Linked DNA regions of Homo sapiens: region 1 is linked to region 2. The links come from fine-mapping of genetic effects on gene expression. A gene starts in region 2. The other region holds a variant in brackets. All regions are shown on one strand. Distances are between the middles of the regions.

Evidence for each region.
Region 1: its variant is fine-mapped to the expression of HMOX2 in whole blood (TOPMed, PIP above 0.99).

The regions. Positions count from the first base shown.
Region 1 is chr16:4,501,601-4,506,972 of GRCh38, reverse strand. It overlaps HMOX2 (heme oxygenase 2), which reads right to left. Exons shown (of 6, transcript NM_002134.4): 2 at 1,363-1,489; 3 at 1-78. The coding sequence starts at 1,448. Among named protein-coding and RNA genes, the nearest start is that of HMOX2, 28 kb to the right of the region's middle. The variant C/T (reference allele first, on the strand shown) is at 2,378.
Region 2 is chr16:4,474,065-4,479,436 of GRCh38, reverse strand. HMOX2 (heme oxygenase 2) reads right to left here and starts at 3,039. Exons shown (of 6, transcript NM_002134.4): 1 at 2,950-3,039. It overlaps NMRAL1 (NmrA like redox sensor 1), which reads left to right and starts at 4,812. Exons shown (of 6, transcript NM_020677.6): 1 at 4,812-4,883; 2 at 5,271-5,344. The coding sequence starts at 5,305. LOC124903636 (a long non-coding RNA gene) reads left to right here. Exons shown (of 3, transcript XR_007064964.1): 3 at 1-173. RefSeq lists an enhancer at 2,742-3,243.

The DNA of each region.
Region 1 (5,372 bases), 28 kb before region 2:
TTGACAAACTGGGTGTTTTCTGCCCGGTCGTGTGCTTCCTTGGTCCCTTCCTTCAGGAGCTCCGAGAGGTCAGCCATTCTGTGGAGAGATGGGAGGTGTTTGTGTGTCAATTAGCCCTTCCCAGCTTTCCAGAAAGGACCATAGAGAGAAGATTGAGTCCACACCCCAAGGTGACCACCTGTTGTACTGGAGGCTGGGGCTTCTCAGACACTTCACTCCAACACAAATAGCAGCAACTTGTCAGGGAACACAGGACAAGCAGACATGACATTCTGCTCCAAGGACTCAGGACACAAGGGATAACTGTGGCCTGCTCCTTGAGAGTAGTACCCACGTCCATGTGTCTGTGTTGGGAACCACCCAAATGAGCAATGCTTTGCTTCTGTGGCCACCTAGTGGTCGAAGAGACACACATCTGTATTCCCTTCAGTATTTGCTGGCTTCTCTAAGAACAGCCTGCCTTGGAACGTGTCTTCTGGAATTCACACACCTCAGTAAGGCTGTGACCATGGGTCTCCTCAGATGGCCCTACTGCCTTCCTCCCACCTTGGACCCACAGCTTCTTTGAGACTATATGTGACTAGGACCAAGCACGGAAGGATGCAAAGGAGACAACCGAGAGGCTAGGGCCAGGACGCTGGGTTTGTGCTGCTTAACGAAATTACACAGTTGTAAAGGTGTGTGGATGGATGGACAAGGTAGAAAACATGTGATCCTAAAGATGGTGGTACTTGGGCAGGGGCTTACATGTGTCCACACAATCCATCTACAAGAGTGAGAAAAATTTGGCCTTATCATGGTCTGGCTTCTGCTGTCTTCTTTAGGAGATTAGCTCGTTATCATCCATGTGCTGAGAATCAATTTATTATTAGCAATTATTTCAAGGGATAAAAAAAAAACTTGGCCAATGACAGGGCTATGAGAGGCTAATGATGCAGAACAGGGCCTGGAAGCTCAGGTTTAGCATGAGCTGTCCCTATACAGAGTAAGGAAAGGCTGCCCTGCAGTCTTTTATGTGGTAAAAGACTGAACAGAGCCAGCTTTGCCTGCGTTTACCCTTTCTCAGCCCAGATGAGGAAACGCACAAGTTTTTAAAAAGAAAAAAGGATAACTACCATCAAATCCTATCAGCACTCCCAGGAGCACCTGCCCTGCCTCCTTGGATGAGACAATGGACCAGTGGGGAGAGTTCTAAGCAGCCGAAGCTGTATGCGGTCCCTGCAGGGCCAAGCAGGCACCCAGGGGTCCAGAGCTCATGGCCCATGGCCACTCCCCAGTGCTGCCAACAGACAAAACCAGGTGTGCTGAGCACGACAGGTGCTGGGCCCACCTGATTCAGTGCAGCCAGCCCCCATCGCTCACCTCATTTGGTTCTCCTTTTCTAGGGCCCCAGAGTTCTTTTTTTCTGACTCGTCTACCCCCTCTGAGGTTTCCACTTCCGCTGACATTGCTGCTGGGTGTGGTTCTTGCTGCTCTCGCTCCTCTGGTCCTGCAGAGACACAAGGAGCTGGTGATGTGGCACCCACGGCAGTCACTTCCCCAAATACCTGTCGGTTCTGCTTTCCTCAGAGCGAATGTAACCAAGGTGACACCCACACACCCCAGGATTGTTTTCTTTAAAATAAAGCTCTGCCATTACTGGGACCATAGTGGAATATGGAAAAAATCTGAATATGAACAATGTATTAGGTAATAGCATTGTATTGACATTAAGCTTGCTGGTTTTTAAAAATAATTGTACTGCGATTATATAAGAGAATGTCTTTGTTCCTAAGAAATACACACTGGGGTATTCAGAAGTAAAGGTACACTGCCTGCAACTCCCTGTCAGATGGTTCAGAAGACAGTGTGTGTGCATGTGCATATGCTGCAGGGTGGGGGACACTGGCAAGTCAGAAAAGCAAACAAGGCAAAATCCTAGCAGTGAATCTGGGGAAGAGGTATGAGAGTTCTTTGTACTATTCTTACCATTTTTCTGTATGCTTAAAACTGTATCAAGGCAGGGCACAGTGGCTCATGCCTGTAATCCCAGCACTTTGGGAGGCCGAGGCAGACTGGAGTTTGAGACTAGCCTGGTTAACATGGTGAAACCCTGTCTCTACTAAAAATACAAAAAATAGCCGGGCATGGTGGTGCACACTTGTAATCCCAGCTACTCGGGAGGCTCAGGCAGGAGAATCTCTTGAGCCCAGGAGGCAGAGGTTGCAGTGAGCCGAGATCACGCCGTTGCACTCCAGCCTGGGCAACAAGAGCGAAACTGTCTTAAAAAAAAAAAAAAAAAAAAAAAAAAGACCGTATCAAAATTAAAAGTTAGGCCAGACACGGTGGCTCATGCCTGTAATCCCACCACTTTGGGAGGCCAAGGTGGGTGGATCAC[C/T]TGAGGTTAGGAGTTTAAGACCAGCCTGACCAACATGGAGAAACCCTGTTTCTACTAAAAATGCAAAATTAGCCGGATGTGGTGGCGCGTGCCTGTAATCCCAGCTACTCAGGAGGCTGAGGCAGGAGAATCACTTGAACCTACGAAGCAGAAGTTGCAGTGAGCCAAGATCGCGCCACTGCACTCCAGCCTGGGCAATAAGAGTGAAACTCTGTCCAAAAAAAAAAAAAAAAAAAAAAAATTGAAAGTTACCAAAAACAAAGAAAACCTCAAAAACCTTAGGGAAACAAAAAGCTTGGCAAGCAACGCACAGTTCCACCCCTCTGCAAGCGTGCTGAGGCCAGTTCATCCTACCTGTGAGAGGCTGGGTGCCTTGTGCAGAAGGCAGCCTACAGGAGTTACCAAAAAAGCAGACTGTCCCTAGCCTACTCAGGACTTTGCTAGGCTGAAGGAAATATTAAGTTGGCCAATCAATTCCCATTGCCTGCTGCAAATGCTGAGCCTTTGTCAGCCAGGGAAACACAGTCCCATAACAAGGCAAGCTCATCCTCCATCCCTCGGGGCTTCTGCTCAGGCAATGTAAGGCGCAGCCCATTTGGGGAATCTTCCACATGAATAGCAGCACAGTAGCACCGACAACTAATAAAGTAACTCACAAAGACAGAACTGGGGCCAAATCAGGCCAAACTGGGCCAAGGAAAAAGAACTTATTTACTGAGCATTTTCTATGTGCTCTACCCAGAAACAGGTGTCAAGAAGAACACAGAAGTGTTAAGAAATGGTCCTTAAAAGGCCCAAGGCACATATCCTTCCTGAGTTTTCTCTAGATACCTAGTTACATTTTTGTTATCTTTTAGGATATTATAGTACATGGTTTGCTCACTGAGGTCTTTTTGAACCATCTCTCTCACCTTTAGATTTAGCATCTCTACTGGGATTATTTTAGGAAGTCAAGCAATAACTCATATAGCACAATGCCTACCATGTGATAAGCACTCAATGAATGTTACATCATGATCATACTTTATTTTGACTGAGGCTTAGTGATGTCTGAGAACACTCAGAAAATAAACATCGGGATGTACAGAAAAATGGAACCTTCTCTTGACTCCAAATCAGAGACACTCTACTCTGCAATAATGCTGATGAACTGTACGATGCACAGCACAGTCTAGAAGAATGTGAAAGCAGGCAGGTATTACATGCAGGGAAGAGTATGCAGAGGGCTTCCTGGGGCAGGACCCTCAACACAGACAGGATTTGGGGCAGGGCTGGGGGAGGGCCTCCAGATCAAGGGAATATTATGAACAAAGCCAGAAATGGGTAGTTCACAGAGATAGCATAAGGCTGCCCAGCTGTGCGTCCACTTACCAAGGGGCAAAAACAGGCATTGCAAGCTGTAGAATAAGCCTCACATGGGCCTTCAGACCTTGATTTATAAATGTTTTCTTTTTTTTTTTTGGTAAAAGTACAGCTTTGCTAGCCGGGCGCGGTGGCTCACGCCTGTAATCCCAACACTTTGGGAGGCCGAGGTGGGCAGATCAGGAGGTCAGGAGTCCGAGACCGGCCTGGCCAACATGGTAAAACCCTGTCTCTACTAAAAATACAAAAATTAGCCAGGCATGGTGGCACACACCTGTAATCCCAGCTACTCAGGAGGCTGAGGCAGGAGAATCGCTTGAACCTGGGAGGCGGAGGTTGCAGTGAGCCGAGATGGAGCCACTGCACTCCAGCCTGTAATCCCAGCTACTTGGGAGGCTGATGTAGGAGGATTTCTTGAGCCTGGGAGACAGAGGTTGCAGTGAGTCGAGATCATGCCACTGCACTCCAGCCTGGCCGACAAAGTAAGACTCTGTCTCAAAAATAAATAAATAAAATACTTTAAATAATAAGAACAGCTTTGCTGTACACCCTTGAGGACCCTGAGAGCCAAAATTTGTCTCTGGCTGCTCAGTTCTCAGGCAGCAGAGAAAAAGGTGCTGGGATGAAAACACTGAGCTATCTAGAGGAGGGAGGGGTGCAGTAAAGGGTCCTGGAGCCTCTAGATGGGTGATGGAAGTAAAGGACCAGGCTGAGGGCACACACACACCAGGCTGAGGGTCCAGGTACCCCAGGACCACAGGCCCCATGCTTCTTACAGGCAAAATGAGGCAAAGACAAGTGCCATCCATGGCCCAGGTTACCAACTGCAGTAACTTCAGCGTGCTTCTTGCCATTTGCACCTACTTATCATGCTGCACAACAGTGATAGGGAACGTGATTAAATCTCATTAACTGTGTTTTACTCAATAATAACTGCATGCTCTGGGAGAGTATAGTCTTGCTTAATTAAACAACAAGTCCTTGTGCTTCTCCGAAAAATACAAAAAGGAGCCAGGCACAGTGGTTCGCACCTATAATCCCAGCATTTAGGGAGGCCGAGGTGGGCAGATCACCTGAGGTCAGCAGTTCGAGACCAGCCTGGCCAACATGGTGAAAGCCCATCTCTACTAGAAATACAAAAATGAGCCAGGCATGGTGGTGGGCAATTTTTTGTAATCTGCTGTCCACGACTTCAAATTTTCTACACTCAAAATAGGTTCTACCGATTTTACTTTGAAGGAAAGCTAACAGGAAGAATACTGAGTTCTCAAGGCGGGCTGAAAGTACCAACTACCATCTGTACAGACCTGGGGGCTGGGGGCAGAGGAGGCTCCTGGGAAGGCTCGGTTAGCATATTCAACCCACAGACTGGGGCCAGGGGAGGCGACCCTGTGGCCTAGCCACTGTCCAAGGGAGTGGCCACACAGTGTGGCATTCAGAGGCCACCTTGCAACTGCAGAAACATAATTTTTTTTCACTTTCTGAAAAGCTACATGTCCAGACTTAGTCTGGCTGGTTTCTATACTTGAATGCTCTTTTCTTTGCAGGAACCATTGGAATCTCTAGAAAATTGAGGGCCAAATCATAAATATAGAACCTTTTTAGACTTCAATGTCTAATATCCACAAGAAGC
Region 2 (5,372 bases):
TCCCTGCCAGTCCACTCCCTCCTCTTTCCAGCCTGTGCCTTAGACAAGGACCCCAAACAAGGATCACCTGGGAAACTCCAAAAAACAGATTCCTAGTCATAATCCCAATTTTACCAAAAAAGAAGCGTTTGGAAACCCCTTAGATCGACAAGCAGCATCCAAAGACACCAAAAACTTAGGCTCATCAAGTATTAACTTCCTGCCTCAGCCTCCCAAGTAGCTGAGATTACAGGTATGTGCTAGCATCCTACTTATTGTTCACTCTGATAGAATTTTTTTTTCTTTGAGATGAAGTTTTGCTCTTGTCGCCCAGGCTGGAGTGCAATGGCATGATCTTGGCTCACTGAAACCTCTGCCTCCCAGGTTCAAGCAATTCTCCTTGCTCAGCCTCCCGAGTAGCTGGGATTACAGGCTACTTTTTGCAAGGCTAATTTTTGTATTTTTAGTAGAGACGGGGTTTCACAATGTTAGCCAGGCTGGTCTCGAACTCCTGACCTCAGGTGATCCACCCGCCTTGGTCTCCCAAAGTGCTGGGATTACAGGCGTGAGCCACCGCACCCAGTCTAGGTCAAGTTTTTCATCTCTTTCCTTTCCAAGGAGTTAAAGCTGAATTTCAAATTTTACAGTGAAATACACAATTCTAATTTTCTTTCTTTCTTTTTTTTTTTTTTGAGATGCAGTTTTGCTCCTGTTGCCCAGGCTGGAATGCAGTGGCACAATCTTGGCTCATCGCAACCTCTGCCTCCCAGGTTCAAGTGATTCTCCTGCCTCGGCCTCCCAAGTAGCTCGGATTACAGGCACACACCACCATGCCCAGCTAATTTTTGTATTATTATTATTTTTTTCTTAGTAGAGATGGGGTTTTTCCATGTTGGTCAGGCTGGTCTCTATCTCCCGACCTCAGGTGATCCGCCCATCTCGGCCTCCCAAAGTGCTGGGATCACAAGCATGAGCCACTGCACCGGGCCCACAATTCTAATTTTCAAATATATCTTCCTCCTGGAGGAGTGATATTCCAGTTTTGGGTGCAATCCTGATGTAGAGCCCAACTGTCCTGTGAAGAGAGTCAGCTGTTAAAAGGAAACCAAAAAATCAAGGTAGCTCTAGCTGTCCAATTTTACAAGTTTTCAACAGACTTGATGAGGGGTGAGCTAAAGGCGGTCAATGCTTTATTGTCTGTAACTCACTGGCACTGGCATTTCTAGAGTTGCTCACGTTCCCCCTTTTGGTGACTCACAGCACTTCAACATGTTGCCACAGCCAAGGAAAAAAGGAAATCAAGTCAGACAATGGAGGAATCACAGGATTTCCCTCTTCACATCCCCAGGTAGATGAGGTCATTCAATGAGTGTGTTTCCAAGGCTCCACAAATTCCCACACCCTCACCAGTGTTTAAACCTGAATGTTTTATCTGATAACTTTTTCTAATTTCACCAAGTAAGCTTATATATGTCTTAACTGTGAACTCCTGATAAGCACAAATTTTGTCTTGTGATAATTTATTTTTTTCTTTTTTGAGACAGGGTCTCACTCTGTCACCCAGGCTGGAGTGCAGTGATGCGATCTCAGCTCACTGCAATCTCCACTTCGTGGGCTCAAGTGATCCTCCAACCTCAAACTCCCCAGTAGCTGGGATTACAGACACGCGCCACCCCGCCCGTTTAACTTTTTTGTATTTTTAGTAGAGACGGGGTTTCACCATGTTGGCCAGGCTGATCTCGAACTCCTGACCTCAGGTGATCCGCCTGCCTCGGCCTCCCAAAGTGCTGGGATTACAGGAGTGAGCCACTGCACCGGCCAGCGTTTCTTTCTTCAATCACACTCCACCTTGTCTGGTTTGTAGCGCCATCAACAAAACACAGTACGTAAGGATGGACAGCCACAGGCCACGACAACCGGCTCATCAGAAGCGATTTTTTTTTTTTTTTTTTTTTTTTTTAGATGGAGTCTTGCTCTGTCGCCCAGGCTGGAGTGCAATGGCGTGATCTCGGCTCACTGCAACCTCTGCCTCCCGGGTTCAAGCGATTCTCCTGCCTCAGCCTCCTAAGTAGCTGGAGCTACAGGCTCACGTTACCATGCCCGGCTGATTTTTGTATTTTTAGTAGAGACGGGGTTTCACTATGTTGGCCAGGCTGGTCTCGGACTCCTGACCTCAAGCAATCCGCCCGCCCTGGCCTCCCAAAGTGCTGGAATTACAGGCGTGAGCCACCGACCCGGCCCAGACGCGATTTAAATGGCATGACACAGGCAGGCCTCGTGCAAAGACTGCAAGGAGGTCCCGGCAGCTTTTGCAGGGCAATTAATCCACCCAGAGCACTGCGCTCAGAAAGTAATAGGTAAACCCGCGTCCGGACTAACCGGCTGCCCCCACACTTGATCCCTCCCAGTCCGACTCTGCTCCAGGGCGTACCAGGGTTCACTCGTGAAGTCACGACACCCACTCAAGGGGCACTTCCTATAGAGATAAGGGCATTAGAGGAAGGGCAGAGCCCCGGTCAATGCCAACAGCCCGGGAAACAGCCAAGCCGGGCTCCAATCTCTGCCGGCATCCCCTGTCTGCACCGCCGACGCCCCCAGCTACGACCCCGGGGGTCACCTCGCCCAGCATAGCCGTGACGCTGGGAGAGGGTGGGCCCAACGGGGACGCCAAAGAGAGCCATTCAGGCCTCCCCGCGCCCCCGGGGAGACGACTTCTGGAGAGCGGCGTCCGCGGTTTCGCCCTCCCCTGACAGCCCCTCCACGCCCTTCTTCGTCCTTCTGCCCGGCCTCACCCAGCTTCCGGCCGCCCCCGGCCGGGTCTCCCCTCAGACCGGCGCAGGGGACCCAAAGGGCTGTGGCCCGGCCAAGCCCAGGTCCGAAGGCCTGGACCGAGGCAGGGCCCGCGAAGGACGCAGCGCGGTCCGAGAAGCCGGGCGGAAGGAAGGCCCCGGGAGGGCGCGGACAGCTCACCTGCCGCAGGTCGCTGTCGCCTGTCCGCCAGCCTCCAGTCAGCGTGCCCGTCAGCGACTCCCTCAGGCGCCGCAGTCCCTGCAGCCCAGCGGACTGGCGCGAGGCCGGCGCAACGTGGGCACGCAGCGCGGGGCGGGGCCTAGAGATGACACGCCCCTTGTAGCTGACACGCCCTTGCCGGGGGCGGGAAGCGGAGTATGTGGCTTTCCCCAGGTCTCTGGAGGTTGCAGGCTCAGGCTCTGCTCAGCGGGGTAAGTAGGCGTGCTTCGGCAGGAACACTAGTGTTCACAAGAGCCGAGGTGTGTGAGGGTGCCTCAGGGTTGAGCACTTTTCTTCCCCAGTGTGGTTTAATCCTTGTACATCCACTCAGTGATGTAAGAAATAGGGTTGTCAACCGTGGCACCACCCACTTGGTCACTTGCCAATGCAATCTGCGAAACTGAGTCTCAACTCTGACACCTCGGTTACCAGTCTTGTATCTGATCTCCCTGTTGCATTATTCGCATTCTTCAAACAGCGGCCAGAATGACAGAATGATTTTTCTTTTTTTGAGACCGAGTTTTGCTCGTCGCCCAGGCTGGAGTGCAATGACGTGATCTCGGCTCACTGCAACCCCCTTCTCCCGGGTTCAAGCGATTCTCCTGCCTTAACCTCCCGAATAGCTGGGATTACAAGCGCCTGCCACCACGCCCGGCTAATTTTTGTATTTTTAGTAGAGACGGGGGTTTCACCATGTTGGCCAGGCTGGTCTCGAACTCCTGAGCTCAGGTGATCCACCCGCCTCGGCCTCCCAAATCACTGCAATTACAGGCCACCGCACCCAGCCCAGAGTCATTTTTTAGTTTTACTGAACACAAAGAAATTACTGAAATCGTGGGCCGGGTGTGGTGGCTCATGTCTGTAATCCCAGCACTTTGGGAGCCTGAGGCGGGAAGATCACTTGAGGTCAGCAGTTCGAGACCAGCCTGGCCAGCATGTTGAAACCCCGTCTCTACCAAAAATACAAAAAAATTTTAGCCGGGCATGGTGGCTCCTGCCTGTAATCCCAGCTACTCAGGAAACTGAGGCAGGAGAATCACTTGAACCCAAGAGGCGGAAGTTGCAGTGAGCCAAGATCGCACCACCACTGCACTCCAGCCTGGGCCACAGAGCAAGACTCCACCTTGAAAACAAAAAACAAAAACAAAAAAAAACTGAAATCAGTGCAAGTAGCAGCAACTTCAGAAGTGAGTTAGGGCTGGGCACGGTGGCTCCCACCTGTACTCCCAGCACTTTGGGAGGCTGAGGTGGGTGGATCACTTTAAGTCAGGAGTTCGAGACCTGCCTGGTCAACCTGGTGAAACCCCGTCTCTACTAAAAAATACAAAAATTAGCCGGGCTTGGTGGCACATGCTTGTAATCCCAGCTACTCGGGAGGCTGAGGCAGGAGAATCTCTTGAACCCGGGGGGCGGAGGTTGCAGTAAGCCGAGATCGCGCCACTGCACACCAGCCTGGGCGACGGACCAAGACACTGTCTCAAAAAAATAAAAATAATAAAATTTTAAAAGTGAGTTAGGCAAAGAAAATATCAAGCGGACAAGGCCTCAAGGGATAAGACTCATGGACATAGCTTTAATTATCTTTGCCTGACGCCCAATACCTGAAAATTAAGATGTTCATGCAAGATAAAGAGGTAATTTTTCTCCTCCTCCCAGTCATCACCCGTAGCATCCGGTTAAGAGGCTCTCCACCTCGCTCATTTTGGTCTAACTGGATTTACACAAACTCACTGTGCACGTGCCTGGGGCGGGCAAACCCGGAAACGACGCCGAGTCCCGCGGGATCCAGGAGGAGCCAACTGCGCCGGAGGAGGGGTTTCGGCCGACACGTCGGGATTGGCGGCTGCAGCCAGGGGTCCTCCGACGCTGGGCTTCCGTGAGCGGCGCTCTGCCAGGTGGGGCCGGAGCTGCGGGGAGGGAGTTGGCGCCTAGCGCGCAGCTCCATCCCCGCCTCTGCAGTGGACTCGGCCGCAGAATCGGGGTCCCGGGCTCCTGGAACTTGTCCCGCCCAGGCCGCGGCGAGGAGGTCACTCCAGCCGGTGGGACCCGGGCCGGGGGGCGGGTGACTGGAACCGGGGGAGGCGGGAAGGAGGAGGGGATCGGGCCCAAGGGACACGAGGTGGGTCGCGGGACCCCGATATCTCGGGACAGGCGTCTTGCCGCTCCGGGCCCAGCCGCCCCCTTCGACACATACTCGATGCATAGACAATGGGGGTGTCCTTTGTCGCTCCTGGCGGGAACCCCGGCCCCACCCCCAACTCCACGCCTCCCATTACCCCCAGATCTCTGGACCGGATTCGTCCCATTCTCGTCCTCATGGTGGACAAGAAACTGGTGGTGGTTTTCGGAGGCACAGGTGAGCCAAACCCCAGACTGGGGCCCTT